Linked DNA regions of Homo sapiens. The protein of the gene in region 1 interacts with the protein of each later gene in a pairwise test. Each region holds a gene or a part of one and is shown on either strand. Other genes may lie near its edges. The genes, in order: AATK, PPP3CB, PTPN18, MTMR9, CDC14A, MTMR8 and STYX.

What was found.
Region 2: the proteins of AATK (region 1) and PPP3CB interact in a two-hybrid assay, tested with the Homo sapiens proteins (one study listed by BioGRID and IntAct).
Region 3: the proteins of AATK (region 1) and PTPN18 interact in a two-hybrid assay, tested with the Homo sapiens proteins (one study listed by BioGRID and IntAct).
Region 4: the proteins of AATK (region 1) and MTMR9 interact in a two-hybrid assay, tested with the Homo sapiens proteins (one study listed by BioGRID and IntAct).
Region 5: the proteins of AATK (region 1) and CDC14A interact in a two-hybrid assay, tested with the Homo sapiens proteins (one study listed by BioGRID and IntAct).
Region 6: the proteins of AATK (region 1) and MTMR8 interact in a two-hybrid assay, tested with the Homo sapiens proteins (one study listed by BioGRID and IntAct).
Region 7: the proteins of AATK (region 1) and STYX interact in a two-hybrid assay, tested with the Homo sapiens proteins (one study listed by BioGRID and IntAct).

The regions. Positions count from the first base shown.
Region 1 is NC_000017.11:81,119,009-81,121,221, forward strand, and holds part of AATK (serine/threonine-protein kinase LMTK1), read right to left. Parts: coding exon 1,193-2,213; intron 1,076-1,192; coding exon 928-1,075; intron 573-927; coding exon 372-572; intron 1-371. UniProt on the Homo sapiens protein: May be involved in neuronal differentiation.
Region 2 is NC_000010.11:73,440,525-73,444,024, forward strand, and holds part of PPP3CB (serine/threonine-protein phosphatase 2B catalytic subunit beta isoform), read right to left. Parts: exon of another isoform or gene 3,265-3,500; intron 1-3,264. UniProt on the Homo sapiens protein: Calcium-dependent, calmodulin-stimulated protein phosphatase which plays an essential role in the transduction of intracellular Ca(2+)-mediated signals.
Region 3 is NC_000002.12:130,362,556-130,366,055, reverse strand, and holds part of PTPN18 (tyrosine-protein phosphatase non-receptor type 18), read right to left. Parts: intron 1-3,500. UniProt on the Homo sapiens protein: Differentially dephosphorylate autophosphorylated tyrosine kinases which are known to be overexpressed in tumor tissues.
Region 4 is NC_000008.11:11,287,816-11,291,315, reverse strand, and holds part of MTMR9 (myotubularin-related protein 9), read right to left. Parts: intron 1-3,500. UniProt on the Homo sapiens protein: Acts as an adapter for myotubularin-related phosphatases. Increases lipid phosphatase MTMR6 catalytic activity, specifically towards phosphatidylinositol 3,5-bisphosphate and MTMR6 binding affinity for phosphorylated phosphatidylinositols.
Region 5 is NC_000001.11:100,359,006-100,362,505, forward strand, and holds part of CDC14A (dual specificity protein phosphatase CDC14A), read left to right. Parts: intron 1-3,500. UniProt on the Homo sapiens protein: Dual-specificity phosphatase. Required for centrosome separation and productive cytokinesis during cell division. Dephosphorylates SIRT2 around early anaphase.
Region 6 is NC_000023.11:64,353,953-64,357,452, forward strand, and holds part of MTMR8 (phosphatidylinositol-3,5-bisphosphate 3-phosphatase MTMR8), read right to left. Parts: intron 2,387-3,500; coding exon 2,224-2,386; intron 983-2,223; coding exon 825-982; intron 1-824. UniProt on the Homo sapiens protein: Lipid phosphatase that specifically dephosphorylates the D-3 position of phosphatidylinositol 3-phosphate and phosphatidylinositol 3,5-bisphosphate, generating phosphatidylinositol and phosphatidylinositol 5-phosphate.
Region 7 is NC_000014.9:52,736,666-52,740,165, reverse strand, and holds part of STYX (serine/threonine/tyrosine-interacting protein), read right to left. Parts: intron 1-3,500. UniProt on the Homo sapiens protein: Catalytically inactive phosphatase. Acts as a nuclear anchor for MAPK1/MAPK3 (ERK1/ERK2). Modulates cell-fate decisions and cell migration by spatiotemporal regulation of MAPK1/MAPK3 (ERK1/ERK2).

The DNA.
Region 1 (2,213 bases):
TGGGGCCGGGGCACCGTGGGACCTGGGTCTGCAGGGACTTCTGGCTGGGAAGGTTCCGGTGAGAGGGCCTGCCGCAGGTCTGCGGGGTAGGGTCAGGCAGAGGAGAGCCGAGTGCAGGGGCCAGGTGAGGGCCAGGTGAGGGTCAGGTGAGGGTCAGGTGAGGGTCAGGTGAGGGTCAGGTGAGGGCCAGGCGAGGGCCAGGCGGGGTCCAGGCTAGGTCTGGGGCCGGGAAGGAGCGGGGCCGGGAAGGAGCGGAGCGGAGCGGAGCCGGGGCTGGCCCGGCCCAGGACCTAGACGGAGGGGCCCCACCCTCGGAGCTCCGTGCCCTGCCTCCCGCGTGCCCTTCTGCCACAGCCCCGCCCAGGCCTCACCTCTCTTGGACTCGGCGTCCGAGTCAGACACGTGCGTGATGGAGAAGCGGGACGTGGGCGCGGGCGACACCGTGAAGCGCGAGAAGGGAGCGGGCGTGGGCGTGGGCGCAGCCGGGGCGGGTGCGGCCGGGTCTAGGGCCATGGCGAAGGCTGCCTTGGCCGTCATCAGCGGGAAGTCGTCGTCCCACGCGAACCCACCACCTGCAGCCCAGGTCGCGGCGTCACTCGCGCTCACAGCCTGGGACCCCGGCCCGGCCCCGCTCCCACAGTCACGGGCCCAGGCCCCGCCTCCCATCATGTCACGGGCCCAGGCCCCGCCTCCCATGATGTCACGGGCCCAGGCCCCGCCTCCCATGCAGCACGGACAAGGCCCCGCCTTCCGTGACGTCACGTACCAGACCCGCCTCCCATGACGACACGGGCCAAAGCCCGCCTCCCACGCGTCAAGGACCAGGTGCTCCTCCCATGATGTCACACATTAGGCCCCGCCTCCCACACAGCACGGACCAGGCCCTGCCTCCCGTGACGTCACGGGCCCAGCCCCGCCCCTGCTCACCCTCTTCCGCTGTGGAGCCATTTGGGGAGCCATCAGCCTGCTGCGGCCGGTTGGGGGCGCTGGGAGAGCCGGGGCTCCCCCTAAGGAACGTAGGGGGCGATTCCTTGGCGCCCGGGAAGGGCTCCCCGAGCTCCCGGGTGGGGCTTTCCTGGAGGAATCAGAGAGCACCAGGTAGCTCGGCCGCCAGGAGCCGCGGCCGCTCCCACCCCTTCCTGCGGGAGCGCGACCCCCAGCCCCGGGCAGACCCCGGGTGGCGGCGGCCCACCTGGTCAAAGAGGTAGACGGTGACGTCGTCGAAGAAGGACACGGCCTTCTTCTTGCGTTCCAGGTCCTCGCAGAAGGTCTCGGACAGCAGGCTGGGCATCTTGAGCAGGCTGCGCAGGTTGCGCGCGCTCTGGCTCTCAGCCACCACCACGGGCACCGCCGGCGCCTCCTCTTCGCTGTCCTCGCTAGGCTCCTGGACGCTGTAGCAGCGGAGCTCCTCGTCAGACTCGTCGCTGTCCTCACTGTCCTCCTCCTCCTCCTCCGGCCGGCCCTCCAAGGCCGCAGGGAGGCCGGGCAGAGCCAGGCGGAGTGGGGCTCTGGGGGTGCCTGGGCCCCCCATCCGCTTTTGTGGGGCCGGCCCTGACAACAGTCCTGGGGGCCCCTGGAACTCAGAGCTGTTGCCTTCTGATCTCAGCGGAACCGGGGTCAGCAGGAAAAACTGGGAGCAGCTGGGGCTGGGCCCAGGCCGCACCTTGGCTGGGCCTTGGGGCTCCGGAGGCTCTGGGACCAGGCCCGAGGGGCAGGTGCTGGGCTCTGGGGAGGACCCTTCAAGCTGCAGCAGTGGGGGCAGCACCTCCCCGGGGCCAGAGCCTTGTGCCTCCCCGGAAACCCCAGGCCTGAGACAGACCTGCTCAGACGGCTGCCCAGTGCTCGGCAGGCCCAGCTCTGGCCCGGGGGCTCGGTCCCCGCCGCACTTCTTCTCTGGGCCTGAGGTGGCCTCGGCCTCAGCCTCGAGGTCTGAGAAGTAGGCAGAGTCTCGGTAGGGATTCTTCTCGTTGAGGCCACTGAGGGAGGTGGAGAGCCGTGTCTCGGGCCCGGGGCCCTCACCCTCTGAGGCCAGCTCCGCAAAGGCCTGGGGCTCACACCCTTCCTGCGCCTCCTTGAGCACAAACTCAGGGGACTCATAGTTCTCGGTGTCATAGCCACTGTCCAGCGCTCGCGGCTGCCCTCCAGAGGGGCCAGTGGCCGACGGGCTGAAGACCTCATAGCCACCATCACTGGCTGAGGACGGGATGTCCAGG
Region 2 (3,500 bases), on another chromosome or scaffold:
GGCTCTGTTCTTTGTGGGGGACCTGAAAGGACTTCTCCTGTCTACCAGTAACTTCCTTTCTATTCTAGTACTGATGTTCCAAATACCTACAGATACTAACATCTATAGCCTTAAAAAATTCCATTTATACTGACAGAGTTTATCATGAACTCAAATTTGCCTCAGAAAAAGACTACTGAGCATCTTTTCAAACTCATCTACCAATTAAAGAGACATTAAGGAAGAGAAGTGAGGTCTTACAGGCATAAATTCTAATTATTTCATGATATAGACACATAGGTCATATTATAAATAAGAAATACATTATTGGTATAGTGTGTCACTGGTCCATTTAGAGAATTTCACCATAATTAGTCAAACATTTTATAGTCAAAGATTCTTTTTTTCGCTCATTTCTGGGTTTGAACTGTATAAAGAGCTCACACTGAGGACCAGGACTCAAGATAGCACACAACAATACTGGTTTACAATATTGTCCATTCCCCTTATTACTCAGAATATTTGTAAAAGTAATGCCCTGGTCTCTCCTATTTTGCTTCTTCTGCAATAAGGCCAATTAGAATAATTATTCCTGAAGTGATCTTTTAGCAATTAACATGATTTAGAAATAATTTTATCCAAAGCAATTATTAATGTAAAAGAAACTGATGAATCTAAGGTATTAAAGTGAACTAAGTTAGAAAATGTTGATCTTAACCAGACAGTAAAGTGAATTGGGGACCCAAAAGAATTAGGACGAACACTGAATAAAGGAAGAGTTAATTTTCCTTAACTGTTAAACTACATTACAAATCGGGCAGGACATGGAAGATCATGCCTATAACCCCAGCACTCTCGGATGGCTGAGGTGGAAGGATCCCTTGAGCGTTTGAGCCCAGCCTGGGCAACACATAGAGAGACCTCATCTCCCCCCAAAAAAAGTTTAAAAAATTAGCCGGGCATGGTGGTGTGCATATGTAATCCCAGCTACTCGGGAAGCTGAAGCAGGAAGATCACTTGAGCCCAGATTGCTAATTGCAACACTCTATCTGAAAGGCACTATTTCTCCTCTATTTGTTTTCAGTTATATAGGGCATCTTGTCATGGCCTTAATAAGTTTGAGCATAGTGCTATCTCAAACTGTGTTCCTCAGTACTATGCAAGATAAATGACCAAGAGGAATTTGGTATTACTAACATAGAATTGGCCACATATATTTCCCATATAGATCCTGGTGAGGGTAGCATTACAGTGCTAGCTCCCAATCAAATTTCCCAGAAAGAAAACATACATAAAATAAAGATGAACAGAAAATCCACCTCCAATAGAGTTGTGCAGTTTGTAAAAACACTCAAGAAACATCATGTAAATTAACTTTTAAAGTTCTTGAAACGACAATTTTTATTTTCTGACAAATAGGCACGAGGTCTTAGAATTAAAATTTTTTCCTTTTGCAATACCTAACTCTCAGTTATACACACTAACATCAGGGAACATTATCTACTAAAATTTAAAATGTAGGATAACTTTTTAAAAAATAATCACAAACATGCAGCTTTTGTATGACCTTTGTTATTTGTTTCAAAGTGGATTTATCTTATGCTAGGAAAATAATTTTGACCAAATGCCCAAACCACACTATCAAGAGCTAGCAAAACTAGAAGCTATCTAGTTTAAGGGGTCCCAAATTAGACCCCTTAAACTCAATTCCTTCCAGTAACTTAGTCCATGCTGAGAATAGAGAGTCCCTCCAGCAAAGCTGCTGTCTTTCAAACCTCCCCTGCAGTTGAGGGTGGTTTCAAAGTTGAAGGAATGAGCTTCAAGCCGTGTACAAATTAAGAATAAACAGAAGTCAACAAAGCATGTAATTAGCAGGGGCTAATCGTGAAATCTGAAAGCAAGGTTTGCTGCGGATACAATATAAAAGTAATGTTATATCCAAGGATAACTGAGAGATGACTATACTGTAGATTTATTTAAGTATGATACCCTTTTGGTTTTATTTTTCTTTTCTGAACAAAGAAGAGTATAATATTTTTGAAGCTATTAAAGTTCATCCTTTTCTATTAACATTTTTACTAGTTTTATCAAATGTTTAAGATCTTGTTTTAATGTACATTCATGAAATTCTTTTTAGTTCATTTTTCTAATGTTTACAATATAATAAGAAAAATGGAGGGCAAGGAATGTAAAGCAAATCAAAGCAGGTTGTTTTTTTTTTTTAAAGAAAATCAAAAAAAGAAACCTCATTCAGAATGAAAATTTATAATTTCAAAACACAGTGTACTTTTCAGATATACCAGTGGTGGTAGTGAACAATACAATGACATTTAAAATAGAACATGTATAGGCTACAAGTAAAAATTGTTTACAGGAAAAAAATTTTTTTTATTGAAAAGCAATCATTGGCCAGGCATAGTGGCTCATGCCTATAATCCCAGCACTTTGGGAGGCTGAGGTCAGAAGATTGCTTGAGCCCAGGAGTTTGAGACCAGCCTGGGCAATACAAAAATATAAAAAAATAAAAAATAAAAAAAATAAAAAAAATTAGCTGGCTGTGGTGGCATGTGCCTATGGTCTTAGCTACTTGGGTGGCTGAAATGGAGGACTGCTTGAGCCCAGGAGGTTGAGGCTGCACTGCACTCCAGCCTGGGTGACACAGCAAGAAACCAGACCCTGTCTGTCTCTCTCACACACACACATGTACACATGCACACAAAAAAAGAAAGACAGAGAGAGAGAGAGAAAGAGAGAGAGAGAGAGAGAAAGAAAGAAAGAAAGACAGAAAGAAAGAAAGAAAGAAAGAAAGAAAGAAAGAAAGAAAGAAAAAGAAAGAGAAGAGAAGAGAGAAAAGAAAAAAAAAGAGCACTTATTATGGAACCAAGTGAAATGAAATTGTGAAGTCAAATGTAAATTCATTCAAAACGTTAAAATTGCCTATTTTTTTCCCTCTAAAAAAGTCACTAATTACAACACCAAAAAGAAACCTAATTATGACTAAGGAAAACATCAGATCTGTTGCTATTTTAATAGACAATGACCCTTAGAGGGCTGTCAAAAGTGACTACAAGAAATTCAGGCTTTTCCACATCATGTATTTTTGCTTTCCAACCACAGGAAAAGAAATCTAGACTGAATTACTGTGTATGGTCACTAATACTCACATCACTCTCTTCTATTTAATCTGTAATGGGCTTTTAAAAAGTTAACCCAGTATTTACACAAATATTTACGCCAAAAAAAGTTTTTTAAGTATAAAATATTCAATGAGCCAGATTACAGGAATGCTTTACGTATAATTCTTTTTATTTTCATGCAAAATAAAGGCACACTTAATAACACCCTTTCAATTTTGACTTACAGGATTTAAATTCAACCCCTTATAACAATGACTTAATATCTAATGTTACATTCATGTTCAGAATGCACAAAGTGCAGCAACAAATGCAGCAAACCTCAAAACAAGGTGCTACAAAGCTGCTTCTACATTGCAAGACAGACAAGTGTCTGATGGAGTAATT
Region 3 (3,500 bases), on another chromosome or scaffold:
ACCTACCCAAAATAGCCAAAACAATCTTGGAAAAAAGAACAAATTTGGAAGACTCATACTTCCTGATTTCAGAACTTCTACAAAGGTATAATAATCAAAACTATGTTACACTGGCACAAGGATAAACACATCAATCAGCTTAATAAAATTGAGAGTTCAGAAATAAACCCTTATATTTATGGCCAATTAATTTTCAACAAAGGGGCCAAGACGGTTCAATGGGCAAAGCATAGTCTTTTCAACAAATGGTGCTGGAACAACTGGATAGTCACATGCAAAAGAGTGAATGTGGACCCCTATCTCACATCACATACAAAAGTTCATTCAAAGTAAATCTGAGACCTAACTGTAAGCAAGAAAACTATAAAACACTTAGAAGGAAGAACAGGAGTAAGTCTTTATGACCTCTGATTAGACAATGACTTCTCAGATACACCAAAAGCACAGCAACACAATAGATTGGAATTAAAGTTTCACAAAATGTTTGTGCTTCAAAACACACCATCAAGAAAGTGGAATGACAACCCACAGAATGGGAAAGACATTTTAAATCATGTACTGATAAGGGACTTATATACAGAATAACGCTTACAACTCAATAATAAAAAGACAACCCCAAATAGCCCAATTTTAAAATGAATAAATGACATGAATAGACATTTGGCCAGAGAAGATATACAAATGGACGAATAAGCACATGAAAACCAAAACCACAATGAGGTACCACTTCCCACTCATTAGGATGGCATATATGTCATTGTCATATGCCACATAATGATGTTTTGGTTAACAACAGACCACATATACAATGGTGGTGCCATAGATTATAATGGAGCATATGTAGAAACCTGATACATGGCACTTGATATTGACACTGCATATTAAGTTGGGGAAATGATTGATACTCAGTAATGGTGCTGGGACATTTGGTTTTCCATATGAAAAATATATAAATAAAAAATGTATATACTATCTATGTTTGTGTAAGTATACTCTATGATGTTTACACAATGACAAGATAGTCTTAACAATGCAGACCATATCCCTGTCATTAAACTACACATGTCCCTCCCTCCCTCTCTCTCTCTCTGCTGATGGGAACGTAAAATGGTACAGCCACTGTGGAAAACAAAATGTTGAACATAGCGTTATCATATGATCCAGCAATTCCATGCTAGGTGTATACCCAGGGAACTGAAAACAGGGATTCAAACAGATACTAGTATACCAATTTTTTGTTGTTGTTGTTGTTGTTGTTTTGAGACGGAGTCTCGCTCTGTCGCCCAGGCTGGAGTGCGGTGGTGCGATCTCGGCTCACTGCAAGCTCCGCCTCATGGGTTCACACCATTCTCTTGCCTCAGCCTCCCGAGTAGCTGGGACTACAGGCGGCTGCCACCACGCCTGGCTAATTTTTTGTATTTTTAGTAGAGGTGGGATTTCATCGTGTTAGCCAGGCTGGTCTCGATCTCCTGACCTCGTGATCTGCCTGCTTCGGCCTCCCAAAGTGCTGGGATTACAGGCGTGAGCCACTGTGTCCAGCCTGTATACCAATGTTTGTAGCCGCCTTATTTACAATAGTCAAAAGGTACAAACAACCCAGATGTCCAACAGGCGAATGGATAAACAAAATGTGATATATACATACAATGAAATATTATTTGGCCTTGAAAACAGTGAAATTCTGATACACACTGCAACATGGATGAACCTTGAAAAAAGGACAAGTATTGTATATTAGTGTATTCCTGATTCCACTTGCATGAGGTACCTAGAATAGGCAAATTCATAGGGACAGAAAGGAGAATAGAGGTTACCTGGAAATGGGGGAATGGGGAGTTATTGTTTAATGAATACAGAATTTCTGTTTGGGATGATGAACATGTTCTGAAAATAGACAGTAGGAATGGTTAATCCATTGTGAATGTACTTAATTCAATTGAATTGTACACTTGAAATGGTTTAAATGGCAAAATTATTTTTAACATTCCTCACAGCACCTATAAACTGGCAAATTTTATGTTATGTATATTTTACCACATAATTTAAAGAAAGACACAATGGCATACCACTTCACAACCCCTAGGATGGCTATAATTAAAAAAAAAAAAAAGACAGTAACAAGCATCAGGGAGAAGAAATGGGGACCCTCAAACATTGCCGTGGAAATGTAAAATGATGCTGCCACTGTGGAAAACAGTTTGGCACTTCCTCAAAATGTTAAAAATAGAGTTTCCATATAGCCCAGCAATTCCCAGCAATACCCAAGAGACATGAAAACCCACATCTACACAGAGACTTGTATATCAGTGTTGATAGCAGCACTGTTCATAATAGCCAAAAAGTAGAAAGAACCCAATTTCTGTCAACCAATAAGTAAAATGTGGTAGATCCATTCAATGGAATAGTATTCAGCAAACAAAACAAAACAAAACAAAAATGCTAAGCAAAAAAAGGCTACATATTATGTGATTCAATTATATGAAATGTCCAAAGTAAGCAAATGTATAAAGGCAAAAATAGATTAGGGATTGTCTGGGGCTGTAGAGGTTGCTGGGAAATGGGGAGTGACTGCTAATGGATATAGGATTTCTTTTCTTTTTCTTTTTTTTTGAGAGACAGTCTTGCTCTGTGGCCAGGCTGCAGTGTAGTGGCACAATCTCAGCTCACTGCAACCTCCAACTCCCTGGTTCAAGCTATTCTTCTGCCTCAGCCTCCCGAGTTGCTGGGATTACAGGCACATGCCACCATGCCCAGCTAATGTTTGTATTTTTAGTAGAGACGGGGTTTCACTATGTTGGCCAGGATGGTCTTGATCTCCTGACCTCGTGATCCACCAGTCTCAGCCTCCCAAAGTGCTGGGATTACAGGCATGAGCCACCATGTCTGGCCTGGATTTTTTTATGGAATGATGAAAATGTTCAAAAACTTATTGTGGTAGGCCGGGCACGGTGGCTCATGCCTGTAATCCCAGCACTTTGGGAGGCTGAGGTGGGCGGATCACGAGGTCAGGAGATTGAGACCATCCTGGCTAACACGGTGAAACCCCGTCTCTACTAAAAATACAAAAAATTAGCCGGGCGTGGTGGCAGGCGCCTGTAGTCCTAGCTACTCGGGAGGCTGAGGCAGGAGAATGGCGTGGACCCGGGAGGCGGAGGTTGCAGCGAGCTGAGATCGCGCCATTGCACTCCAGCCTGGAGGACAGAGCGAGGCTCCGTCTCAAAAACAAAAACAAAAACAAAAACAAAAATCTTACTGTGGTAATAGTTGCATAGCTCAGGAATATAGAAAAATGATGGAACTGTACACTTTAAATGACTGAATTGTATATCAATAAAGCTGTTTAAAAAGATATTCTAAAACAACTATAATAGCAGTGTACTGTGGAGTATATTTTATATATAGAACTATAATATATAGTAACAATAGCACAAAGCATGGAAAGGGGTAATCGAAATATACTACAGTAAAGTTCTGACATTTTACATGAAATGTAGAATATT
Region 4 (3,500 bases), on another chromosome or scaffold:
CTCAGCTCCTAGTACAGCACCTAGCATATACACCATCTTAAAGTTCCACTAAGGGACTTAAAGGAAGATCTGAATAAATAATGTAACATTGTTCATGGATGTCAAGATGTCAATTTGACTCCAATTAATCTATAAATCCAAAACAATTCATTTTTTTAAAATCCTATGAAAATTGTATAAAGTCTGTGGTCTAGTTAATAGTACTGCACCAATGTCAATGTCCTAATTTTGTCCTCATTTTGATTACACTACAGTTATAAAACAGGTCAACATTAGGGGAAGCTGAGTGGACGATTCTAAAACCTCTATGTGCAATTTTTGCAACTGCCTTTGAGTCTTCAATTATTATTAAAGACTTTTAAAAATCCCATGAACATAGCAAGTTTTCCAAAATTGCATGGAAACATAAAGGTCGAAACATAGTTGTCAACTTTAAAAAAAAAAAAAAAAAACGAAAGCGGGGCAACTAGCACTATCCGATTTTTGGACACATCACAAAGCCACAGAAGGAAAGAGAATATGATGATGACAAAAGAGCAGATTAATGAACCAATGGATTATGACAGAGAGCTCAGAAACAGACCCGTATATATAGGATAACTTGACATAAACCAGCCAAGGTTGGGTTGTCACGTGATGGGATTAAGAAAACTGGCTTGCTCTATGGAGAAAAATAGGTTCTTATCACACTTGAAACAAAGATAGAATCCAAATTAAAGACCTAAAAATGAACAGTAAAACTATGAAGCTATTATGGAAGAAAATGTAGGAGAACATCCTGGTGATTTGGGGACAGGGAAGGAGTTCTTAAGACAAGCCACACACCATAAAGCAAAACATTGGCAAGTTCTGCATTAAAAGTAAAGATTTCTGTTCAACAAAGGGCACCACAGAAAAAAACAACAGATGGGTGACACACTAGAAAACATTCGTAATGCCTAAATGGAGAATGAACACCCACAGAGTATACAAGGTACCCATGCAAATCAACATGAGAAGGACAATAAACCCAATGTTTAAAAGTAGACCACAGAAATTAGGCAATTCACAAAAAGGAAAAAAAAAAATTTTAAGTATACTGCTCACAAGCATATACAAAGATAATTAAACACTAATAATTAATGAAATTCAAATTAAAACAAAGCAATAACTATTTCACAATCTTCAGACTGGAAAAATTAGAAAGACAATACCAAATGTTGGTAAGAAAGTGGAGACGAGGTACCCTCTCCTGCACCATCATGGGAAGGCAATGTGCAATTGTCATCCTGGAAAGCAATTAGTTTGTGAAATGAGATACGCACCTACTTTATGGCGCCATCCCATCCTAGGGGCAGTCTCAGAGCAATTATGGCACAAGACTATATAAAGGGACATGAATGAGTATGTTTACCAGAGTTGTTTGTGATAGCAGGGAGTTGGAAGTTACCTAAAAGGTCTGTTAAGGAAGCTCTTTTAGATACTTTGGAATCCTATGCTGTCAGAAGCAGTGAAATGGTTGTACACACAGCAATATGAAGAGATCTTGAAACAGTATTGTGTCACCATATTAAGAAGCAGAACAAGATCTACAACATAATCCCAGTTAGGCAAATTAAACTCACACATGCATGTGTGCGCACACCCATACACAATAGTGCTATCTATTTTATAGCAACAACTAACGTGGTTGCCTACAGGGATTGTGGATGAGGCAGGAAACGGGAGTGAAAATTAGGGAGGAAGAAAATCAACAACAGAGGAAACCTTTTAAGGAATCAATCATGAAAATGATGAGTCATCAACTGAGTAGTAGTAACTCAATTTTCTGAGGTCCATTAAAAAAAAAACCAGGTATAACTGTAAAACTTGTATACAACCTTGCATGTTGAAAGGATCAAATAAAATGATGTAAGCGATATATATGAAAGTATTCCACAGACTTGTGAAGCATTATTTAAACTTAAGTTTCTACGAGGTTAAGTAGTTTGCCCAAAGGCACTTGTCTAGTAAGAGGCAGAACTGAAGGAGTTACCCTTAATGACTTTCTCACCTCATTTACAATTCACCAGCAAGGCAAGGCAGCTCCACTTTCAAAAACACATCCCAAATCAGATTCCTTGTGACTACACTACTGTTTTTTGTTTGTTTGTTTGTTTGTTTTGAGACAGAGACTCACTCTGTCACCCCAGGGTGGAGTTCAGTGGTGCAATCTCAGTTTACTGCAACCTCGGCCTCCCAGGGTGAAGTGATTCTCCTGCCTCAGCCTCCTGAGTAGCTGGGATCAGAGACATGCACCACCAAACCCAGCTATTTTTTGTATTTTCAGTAGAGATGAGGTTTCACCATACTGGCCAGGCTGTGTCGAACTCCTGACCTCAGGTGATCTGCCCGCCTCGGCCTCCCAGAGTGCTGGGATTACAGGCGTGAGCCACCGTGCCCGGCCTACCATCATCTTTTATGTGAACTACTCTACTCTCCAAGCTGGGCCTGCTGCTTCCAGTCTTGCCCCCCTACAGTTTATTTTCTGCCAGCAGCCAGAATTGTCTTCTGAAACATCTATCAGCTGCTGCTTCCTAGCTTTCACCTCTCCAAGGGCTCCCATGAAAACCATTACTGTGGCCTGCAGGCCCTCCACGGTCTGACCACTGCTTATCCCTCCAGCCAGTCTCTACCATCAACTTCCTGTACTCTCTGTTCCCTGCCCTGCAGCCACACTGGCCTCTTCGCTCTTCTCTGCACATGCCAAGCATGTTCCCCATCTCAAGTCTTTGTATTCGCTGTTCCCTCTGGCTGCAATGCTCTTCCCCCAGACACTCACAGTTCTAGCTTCCTCATTTCATTCCGGTCTGTAGTCAGATGTCACCTGCCTTCTCTGAAATCCTTTCTAAGGAAACTGCCTCCCAGTGCTCTTTATCCTCTCATCTTCCGTTACTTTCCTTCCTGGCCCTTATTACCTGACATCATTATATATATATTATATATATATAAATATATTATATATTTATGTATATATATTATATATACATATTATAATATATATTATATGCTATATTATACTATATTATAATATATAATTATTATAATATAATTATTATTATTATATATTATAATTATTAATATATTATATATAATAATTACATGTATTAGGTGAATAGGTGAATAAATAATTATTCACCTATTCGCTGAATAATTAGGTGAATATTTAGGTGAATAATTATTTAATATAATTAGGTGAATAATTATATATATTATATAGGTGAAATATAATATATATTATATAATACGTATTATATAATATATATTATATATCATACGTATTATATACTATGTATTATATGTAATATATATTATATAATACATATATAATACATAGTATATAATACGTATGATATATAACACATATTATATAATATATAATACATATTATGTTATATATAATACGTATTATATATGTTATATATTATAATATAATATATAACATATATAATAAAATATATAATGTTATATATTATATATTA
Region 5 (3,500 bases), on another chromosome or scaffold:
ACATATATATGATCTGATAGAGCCTTACGGTCATCATTTAGAACCTCAATTCTCATTATAAATTGCTATGATATAGACAGAAGAGGAGATTTGGTTGAACCTCGAGACAAATTTCATTGTGGGAATAATAATAAAGCCATAGCAACAACAACAGCAGCAGCAGCAGCAGCTAACATGTATAGCCCTGTGCCAGGCAGTGTTCTAAGTGGTTTACACGCACACATTAACTCAATTAATCCTCAGAACAAGCCTAGGAGTTAGATGCTGTTATTATCACTACTTAACAAAGGAGGAAGTAGAGGTCCAGAGAGGGAAGTATATTGCCTAAGGTCACTGAGCTGGTAAGGCAGAGCAGGGATGCAAGCCAGAGGCAGTCCACCCTGGAGTCCAGGCATTTCCCAGTTGGCCTGAGACTGATGCCAATGGGGAGGGTATGGGACAACTTTGCCCCTTCCTGACAGACTTGATCCCTCTAACTTGGGTGGTGATGGCTCTTGGGGGAAATGTGCCACTGACAGTATATGCACAAACTATGACCAGCTCCTATCTGGGAATGTGTGGTGGTAATTTAAACATTTTTCTTTGTAATTTCACTTTTGGGGGGTATAATTTTGCCTTTTTTTTCCTATCAGTGCACTACCAAAAAGAAAGAGAGGAAAGAAATTGAGTTAATTGTAGGACACGTGAAAACGAAAGAAGCCCAGTTTTTATAAGCCTATGATAACTGCTTTTGTAGGCTGTCTGGTGAAATGTTCTGGCTGCTTACCTGGTGTAACTTAAGGTGATTTTTTTTTTTAAGGTATTCTCCAAAAAAAACCCTCAGAAAACTGTTTACTTTCTAAAAGATGGTAGTTTATAGTTTCTTCCCCCCTTTTTCTTCTCTTCATCCAAACCTTGGAAAAGTAATATTGTTCAGGGCTGCTTTTTTTCACCTTCTTCTTTTTTTTTTTTTTTTTGAGTTGGAGTTTCCTTCTGTTGCCAGGCTGGAGTGCAGTGGTGCGATCTCAGCTCACTGTAACCTCCGCCTCCTGGGTTCAACCGATTCTCGTGCCTCAGCCTCCTGAGTAGCTGGGATTACAGGCGCGCACCACCACACCCAGCTATTTTTTTTTTTTTTTTTTGTATTTTTAGTAGAGACGAGGTTTCACCATGTTGGCCGGGTGGTCTTGATCTCCTGACCTCGTGATCTGCCTGCCTCGGCCTCCCAAAGTGCTAGGATTACAGGCATGAGCCACTGTGCCTAGCCTTTTTCACCTTCTGTTTTGAACACATGACAGCCAGTGTTATGATGTAGTATATGTTAAGAGGAAGTAGATATATCTGTGTACATTCATAGTTAGTTCTTTTTTTTTTTTTGAAACAGGGTCTTGCTCTGTCACCCAGACTGGAGTGCAGTGGGGCAATCTCGGCTCACTGCAACCTCCACCTCCGGGGTTCAAGCAATTCTCCCACCTCAGCCTCCCGAATAGCTGGGATTATGGGTGCATGCCACCATGCCTTGCTAATTTTTGTATTTTTTTGTAGAGACAGGGTTTCACCATGTTGACCAGGCTGGTCTCGAACTCCTGGCCTTAAGTGATCTGCCTGCCTCGGCCTCCCAAAGTGCTGGGATTACAGGTGTGAGCCACCGTGCCTGGCCCACAGTTCTTAATTCTGTAATCCAGGGGAATCAAATTTACCTTCTAGATAATGATTTATTTAAATATCTGCTGTTTTGACCTCTTAGGCATTCGGTGTAGAGTTGATCTCTAATCTTCATAATGATAAATTATTACTCTGTTTTTTCAGTTTGCTTGAGATAAGGCTGTGAAAACAAAAAATGTAGCCGAGGTGCTAAGGAGAGTTATCTTAACAGGGCTAGTCATAATCATGCAGCCTGAGAGAGAGCTCCAAGTGGGCTGCAGGAGATCCCAGTGGGGAGCTGTCAGCCTTCCAAGTTCTTTCTGTGCCAGGTCACCACAGGGCGGCTTCATTATTTTGTTTGAAGTAGATTCCTAAGACATCAGATGTTCTCATTTGTAAGTTCATAAACACATTCCCAAGCCAGAAGTAAATGACTTTTACTTAGCCACAGCTCAATACCCCTTTGTGCTTAAAAAAAAAAAAACAACAAAAAACAAAAAACAAAAAAACTAAAAACTAAAACACAAGCCTCACAAAACTCTTGACACATTTTTATGGGAAGTGAAAAGCATAACTTAAAACTTTCATAAGTGGTTGAAAATTGCTATACAAGAAACTTAGTATTTAGATGGGATAGATTTTGATGCAGAACACTGTACTAATGCTTTGGAGATATGTATTTGTAAAGAAGGAAGTAGAAACACATGCAGTACAGGATAATACATGACCAAAGCTGCAAATGTATGTGTTAGGAGTTCAAGAAAGGAAGAGATTATTGCTACCCAGGGTGATAAGCACTGAGCTAGTTTTTGAAGGGTGTATAATAGCAAAGAGTACATTTTATGATCTCTGTGAGGACCAGTACTACCTGTTTTTGCTCACCATTATGTCCCAACACCTAGCACTGTGCCTGGCATAGATATGGGGCTCAAGAAATTTTAGTTGAATGAATGAATGAGTGAGTAAGTGAATGAGGAAGAAAGGAAAGAAAAAGATTTCAGGCAGAGTCCTGAGAAAAGGCACAAGAGGTGTTTGGGAATAGCAAGATTCTGTTAGAGGAGGTGTAATAATATTTGAATGGAGAGGAGTCACAGGTCACAGCAGCAGTCACTTAGTTGGGGACTGGATTGTGGAAAACTGTTTGGATGTCAGTAAATTGTGCTTGCTTGTAAATGGCAGAGAGTGACCAGGGCTCTACTTTAGGACGAGTGCTGCCATCGCTCGAAGGTGGGGTCAGTTAGGCTATGGAAGAATTGGATTAGGGTTGCAGCAGTGGGGAAAGAAAGGCCAGATGGGGAGAGGCTGGAAAGAATTGGTTGACTGGATTTGGGACTGAGCAGATGCGGGTAGGGAGGAGGAAGCAAAGGTGAATTCAAAGTTTCTGGCTTGGGTGACTGGGAGAGAGGGACACCTTTAAGTAGGTGAGGTACGTAAATCAGAAGGAAACTGCCTTTTTGCTATTCTGTTTTGTTTTGAGGATTGGAGATAGGAAGTAAAAAGGGGGTCATTATAATGGAGTCTTTGTCTTTTGTGATCTTTAAGCGGAAAATAGACCGTGTCTGTCCTGGATATTTAAAATGTGGGGAGGTAAGTGGCACAACTGATCTCAAGTTCCTTTCTGGCTTTGTGATTTGAGCTGAATTTTTTATACTGAATTGTGAAATTCATTGTGTCTTAGAAATATTTTTTTTAATTTTTCAAAGAATATTGCTTTTCTACAATGAAGAAATTCAAACCTACAGTGCTATAAATTTTTAATTGGCATAATTTTGTATATGCAGTTTTAAATGCTGATTTTTTTAATCATACATGAGCATTGTAAACCAATGCCATTTTTCAAAATCACCATAAATGTCTCTATATTAATAATATTTCGG
Region 6 (3,500 bases), on another chromosome or scaffold:
ACATATGCACAATAGAATATAACTCAGTCACAAAAAAATGTAATCCTGTCATTTGCAACAACATGGATGGAACTGGGGGACATTATATTAAGTGAAATGAACAAAGCATAGAAAGACAAATATTGCATAATCTCATTCACATGTTGTAGGAGCAAAAAAAAAAAAAAAATGAACTCATGGAGACAGAGAGTAGAATGATGGTTACCAAAGGTTGGTAAGGGTAGTGGAGTGGGGGGGATAAAAAGAGGATCCTCAACGGGTACAAAAATACAGTTAGATAGAAGGAATAAGATCTAGTATTCAGTAGCAAAACAGGACGACTACAGATAACAATAATAAAATAACTGAAAATGGAATTGGAATGTTCCTAACACAAATAAATGATAAATACTTGTGGTGATGGATACCCCAATTACCCTGATCTGATCATTACATATTGTATGCCTGTATAAAAATATCACATGTACCCTATAAATATGTACAACTATTATATATCCATAATAATTAAAAATAAAAAATGTTAAAATAAATTAGCCTTCACAAGGCTACTCTGCAAAGCATCAGGTTGTTTCTGGCTTCCTTAGGCTGATTTTCATGCCCTGCACCTATGCTCCCATAACACCCTATGCTTTAGGCCATGAGATCTCTTACTCAGTGCCTATTGCACTGTAGGTACTCAATAAATGTCTGTTGAATGGCTGAATGTTGAATGGAAAGGAGAGAGAGATTATGAGTCATTTCTCTCTTTTTTCAAAATCTTGTTTCCTGATATTCTACCATCTTAATTAAATGCACCAAAAGGCAAACAACAAGGACAAAATTACCTCATAGTTTCTGTTGGCATCTGTTATGGTCCAGTTTCTGTTGGGTATTCCCATACGCCCAAAGTCTGATATTGGGTCAATCAGTTTCCATCCACTTTCCCTCATCTCTTTTGAGGATTTGGGATTATAAGAAAAAGCATAAAGATCTTCAGGTAATGCTGGAGAAGAGAGATAGGCATGGAAAACAAAATGATGAATGAAACCTAAAAATCATCAAACAATGCAAATAAAGGCTAGATTTCCTTTTCCTAAGGGAATGTTTGTCAAACAGCCCCAGAAAAGGACTGTGGTGTGTGCAAGTTTGCCTTTATGTAAGGAATAAAAACTGGAATATTGTTTGGGTTCTTTGAAAAAATGTTTTAATTTTTTGTGTTATCAATACGAAGTGGGATCTTTCTGCCTGGCTTCCTATAAAAAAAGAATGCTGGATAATTGACTGAACTGAGGCTTCAGGGTTTCACATGTTAAGAAAAGAGTCCTTACCAAAAGTTTTTAACTGGGCTCCCATGTCCTAATAGTACTGCTTATTGTAACATGTTGCACATCTTTAACAATGTTTTTGCATTGTACTTGTCAGACCAACAGCAACTTCTGACTTATAAATGGCCCCTTCCTCTCTTTTCTCTGTCAGTCCTGCTTCCTCCCTTCACGAGATACAGCATCCAATCAAATAACTCATTTGACCAATTTATATGGCAACAACTTCTCCAGAGATTAATGGAGCCTATCAGAGACTTGTAAAATGCTAGGCCATCCAGCAGGTAACTTTATCAATAAAAATCAGCAAATATTGAGGAATTACTCTGAGGGAAAAGGGGAAAAATGGGAGAGAAAATGTAAGAGCATGATTAAAATCAAAGACTAAAATCAGAGGAAGCTGGTTAATTGCCTAGGGGTGGGGGCTGGGGAATGAAAGGGTGATGCTGGAGGAAGCATTAAGTCCTACATTAATGAGGACTTTGATGAACTGCCTTAGTCTTCTAGTTGGAATTAAAAGTAGGGGTGGAAATCGTGGGCCAAACAAAAAGTCTGCAGGACAGCAGGAAACAAATTTTCTTCCAAAGCAGTCTTCCTTCCTGAACTGAGAAAACATTCACAAGTTGATACTTTAAAGGAGGGAAGGAGAGAGAAGAAAATATCTATTAAACATCTACTATATACTAATACATGAAGGTATTCAAGGCTCAAAACAATCCCCTTGAAGAGCTTTTACTCTCCTTACTTTTACAGGTAAAGAAAATGAGTTCAGAGGTTATATAACTTGCCCAAATATAATGGAGCTAATAAGTGGTACAGCCCAGATCCAAACCCTCCTCTGACTCCATAGCCCTGATCTTTCCATTATGCCATTTTGGAAAAATATTAAAATGGTTTTAGATAAAAATACTATCATAACTACCTGGCTGAGAAAGCTTGAGCAGTGAAATATAAACCTCATGGCACACAAGGTCAGAATCTAAAACAAAGTGGGCCACCCGGAAATTCTTGCAGCGGAGGGTCAGGGGACAACCCAGGCTAGTGATGGGTAACTTCTCCACAGTGGCAATGTGATGGAGTGCAATCTGAAAAACATAAAAGAACCAGCGTAAACATACAGATGTGCAATATCTCTATCACTATCAGTATTCCTGACTCTCCGTAATGGTAACAGCATGACCAGATCTGTAGGCTACATCTACAGCCTACAACCATTCTTTGTAAGACACAACTGGGGTTCTCTCAAATAGAACTAAAGCATAATAGTGGTAAAGCAACAAGAAGCAGACTGCAGTGTTAGAAAACTTCTCTCTCCTTAAGGATACGAGATTACCAAGTTTGTGGGACAATTTTGGTAGATCAGCTCAGAATAGATGACTTTTAGCATGCTGTGATAGAGTTCACAATCAGAATAATTGTTACAGAGGAAAACAGGAATTTTTTTTCTTATATCAAATTACTAATTAAGATAATTATTAATAGCAGGTATTGTGCCTTATCATAAACAAAGTAGTCCATGACCATTAGCTATTTAAGAAGAGCCATTTGACGTGTAATCATCCTATTTCAGGAATGAAAAAAAAACAAAGCTCTGAGAAGTGAATTCCTCATCAGATATCATATAGCCAAGAAGTGGCACAAACAGAATTTGAACCATAGCAGTCTAAACTTAAGTCCAGGATTAAGTTCTGGAATAAGGATTTAACTAGAAATGTTAGGGAGGAACTATTCCTCTACATTTTAAACTCTAGTGACAGTAAAGCAAAGAATGTAGGATGATTACTTCTGTTCATGCTGATGCCAGCAAAAAAAGAAATGCATGGAAAGGGAACTGATGAAACAAAATGTGTCCAAATAATATAATTCTCTCTTAATTGATTCAAAAAGCCATATAATCATGGTTTTGCATTTTGATCTTTGATGTTCTCCTCCTATCCCTGTCTTATGTTTCTGCAACTATGGAGCCTGGATGTGCTCTTTCCATTCTCTAGACTCCCTGTCCTGTGCCTGGAATGGTCTTCCAATCAATAGTGCCTTTTCTGCTCTCCCATCACCTCAATGCCCCAGTCCCTAATTTCTTTGGAAAAGTCATCTCTTCAATGAAGTCTTTCAATCATATCCACCATCTAAGAATGGAGCAAGTGTGGAAATGATTCAGATATTCCTAGGATAAATTTTCTATTTTTTTTAAGGCAGGGT
Region 7 (3,500 bases), on another chromosome or scaffold:
AGCTGGGATTACAAGCGCCCACCACCAAACCTGGCTAATTTTTGTATTTTTAGTAGAGATGGGGTTTCACCATCTTGGCCAGGTTGGTCTTGAACTCCTGACCTCATGATCCACCTGCCTCGGCCTCTCAAAGTGCTGGGATTACAGGCATGAGCCACCGCGCCCAGCCTAGATTCTTTAACTTACCAATGTGTTATGGTAATCTTTTTATATATGAGTTTTTTAGCCAGGTATGGTAGCTCACACCTGCAATCCCAGCCCTTTGGAAGGCTGGGGCAGGAGGATAGCTTGAGCCCGAGTTCAAGACCAGCCTGGGCAATATAGGGAGACCTCATCTCTACAAAAATTAAAAAATTAGCCAGGTGCGGTGGTGGTGCATGACTGAGGTCCTAGCTACTTGGGAGGCTGAGGCAGGAAGATCACTCGGGCTTGGGAGGTCGAGGCTGCAGTGAGTCATCATGGTGCCATTGCACTCCAGCCTGGGCAACAGAGACAGACCCTATCTCAACGAAAAAAAAAAAAAAAAAAAAAAAGAAAGAAAGGAAAAAGAAAACAGTTTTTAAAGACTTTAGGCCAAATACTCTTTTTAGTCATGGTACCCCTAATGATAAGCACAGTGCCTGACACAGAATAAGCACAAAATAGATGCATTTCAGAGATCTACTGCACTAAATGTTATTGACTTTTTTCTTTTTAAAAGATTCTCAAGTAGTCTAACAGCCAGCCTTATCTTCCTGAAGCAACTTGTCAGAGCTGTGATAAAGAAGAAAATCAATTAAAGAAATGAGTACTTTTGAATTTATCTAAAGTGAAATCACTAAATTTTGTGTAATTAAAGAAAAAAAAACAGGGCAACACATATCAAGGAATGGTGTAAATATATTCTGGGAAATACTTGTGTAAGGCAAGGAAGACTTTCCCTCTACCATCAGGATTCGATAACAGTCTATGAAATAAACTAAATGGAGAAAATGTATACAAATTTATTATGTGTATGGGAGTATCACAGGAAAGAAAAGTGTATACCAAAAAAAAAAAAGTGGTATTTTTAAAAAGTGTATACCAAAAACAAACAAAATCCGTGATATTTCAAACCAGTCTATGAAATAAACTAAACGGAGAAAAGGTATACAGATTCATTATGTGCATGGGGGTATCACAGGAAAGAAACGTGTATACAAAAAAAAAAAAAGTGATATTTAGGAGTTTATATACCCTTTATATAGCATGGGGGTAGAGGTATACAGGCAATTTAGAAGAACAATTCTGGAGAAAGATAAATGGGCCCTTAGAATAATAATAGATGATACTTTGTGTCAGTTTGTCTGGGTGTGGTGCTGACTTTTACTCTCCTCTCCAGTGATAAGAGACAATCTTCCCTGGTTGATCAAACTCCCTAGGAGCAAACTGAGCTTCTTTTGGAGGATCTGTCCTTAGGTAGGTAACAGGAGTTCAGAGAAAGTGTTTCTTTGCATTTGCTACTTTGCAAGTGTTTCCAACTTAAAGTAATCAATATATCAAGGTGTCATATTTTGGAGTGGCATTTCCTCAACACCTTCATTTGGCAATATGCCAAAAGACACTCAAAGCCACTGAAGTATCAATTTTATCAAAAAAATTCTTTAGGGAGAAACAGTATTTTCACTGGTTACTAATTTAAACAATTTTTATATTAAAACAAACAGGCACATATGGGATAGAATGCAAAATTTACCTGAACCTTTTAGCAAAACAAGAGGCTTCAAAGAACTTTTGAGCTTTCCATAAGGTTATATGTAATACAACATGAAAGACTCTCTTGAGATATATATATATATGGAAGATATTATAAGAGGGAAAAGCAAGTTGTATAGTAGGAGGGAATGAAAAATTATTCCTAGTCACAGGACAGATAAGAAGCCTTCTTCAGAGAACATTAGTAATTACTGCAATAGGTATGGATCCTTTGAAACCTAGAAAGCTTTCTCTCACAGAAAAGTTCATTTGGAACTATTCCTGGTGTTATCATCAGATGCTGATCTCAGAATCCACCTTCTTTGCTGCCCTAACCCAGATTACCACCTACAGAACAAACCTTAAACCTGCCTGTTGGCCGGGCACAGTGGCTCACGCCTGTAATCCCAGCACTTTGGGAGGCCAAGGAGGGTGGATCACAGGGTCAGGAGATCGAGACCATCCTGGCTAACATGGTTGACACCCCGTCTCTACCAAAAATACAAAAAATTAGCCGGGCATGGTGGCGGGCGCCTGTAGTCCCAGCTACTCGGGAGGCTGAGGCAGGAGAATGGCGTGAACCCGGGAGGCGGAGCTTGCAGTGAGTTGAGATCCTGCCACTGCACTCCAACCTGTTAAAACAAACAAACAAACAAAAAAACCCTGCCTGTCTATGGATCTTACTAACCAAGATTTTAAGTCTGAATGCTCATAGTCTTCTTCTACCACACATCCGTCTGAACACACGTCTAATAACCAAGTCTTGCCACTATCACACTTAATTCTTAATCTCAGCCTGCTCACACTACTCCTGAAATCTATCATTTTAGAAACCGTGGTATTAATGGAGGCATCTCCATATCACCAGCAATGATCTATTTTAAGTTACTATTGTAATTAATTAGTAGAAATCAATTTCCCAAACTTTATGAGTAGCCAAGCAGTTCAACCACATTAACCAAACCAAGGCAAGCCAGATAAACCAAAATAACCCTCTATTGTGAAACACCATGATTCTGAGACAAATTAATTCACAAGTGAAAATCTTTCGATCAACATGAGGTAGAAAGTACCACATGTTAAAACATCCTTCCGAATTATCTCCTTCCTTTCCATAAAAATGATCTATAAAACTGCATTTGGATAGAGAAAAGTTACAAAAATGTTCAAAGACCCTCAAATAAACACATCAATGAAGGATATAGACTGTAACCATTAGATAAAATAATTCTTATATGCATTGAAATATGAAATATGAACTTTTACAAATACAGTAGTCCCCCCTTATCCACAGGGGATATGTTCATACATTTGAGGATAGTGCTGAATCCTATATACACAATACTAAAATAAAACACAAATTGTACATAGGCTGGAGGTGGGGGGCAACAGTTTGGGGAAGAAAAAAAACATCAGAATACTAGACTTGCACTGGGACATTCCACAAAACAGAAAAGTTAGTATTGCACTTTCTCTCCTAGAAAAAATAGGTAAATCCCTCCAAAGTCCTTTTCCTTTCATTCCCACACCAAGCTTGAGCTTTGCTTAAATCAAAGGAGAAAAGAAAATGTTTCACTCAAATAAAAAGAGAAGGTGGGCAGGGACTGGAGGGGCAGAAGAGTACTCAAGTAAGATATTTTCTAAACCAGCAATTTTTAAACCTGACTGAACATTAGAATCATCTAGCTTCATTCAGATAAATTAAACTACAATAGGTGCTGGTAGGGTCCACGCATCAGTATTTTTAAAAAATTCCTTACTCTAGAGTAAGGGTTAAAAAGCACCAT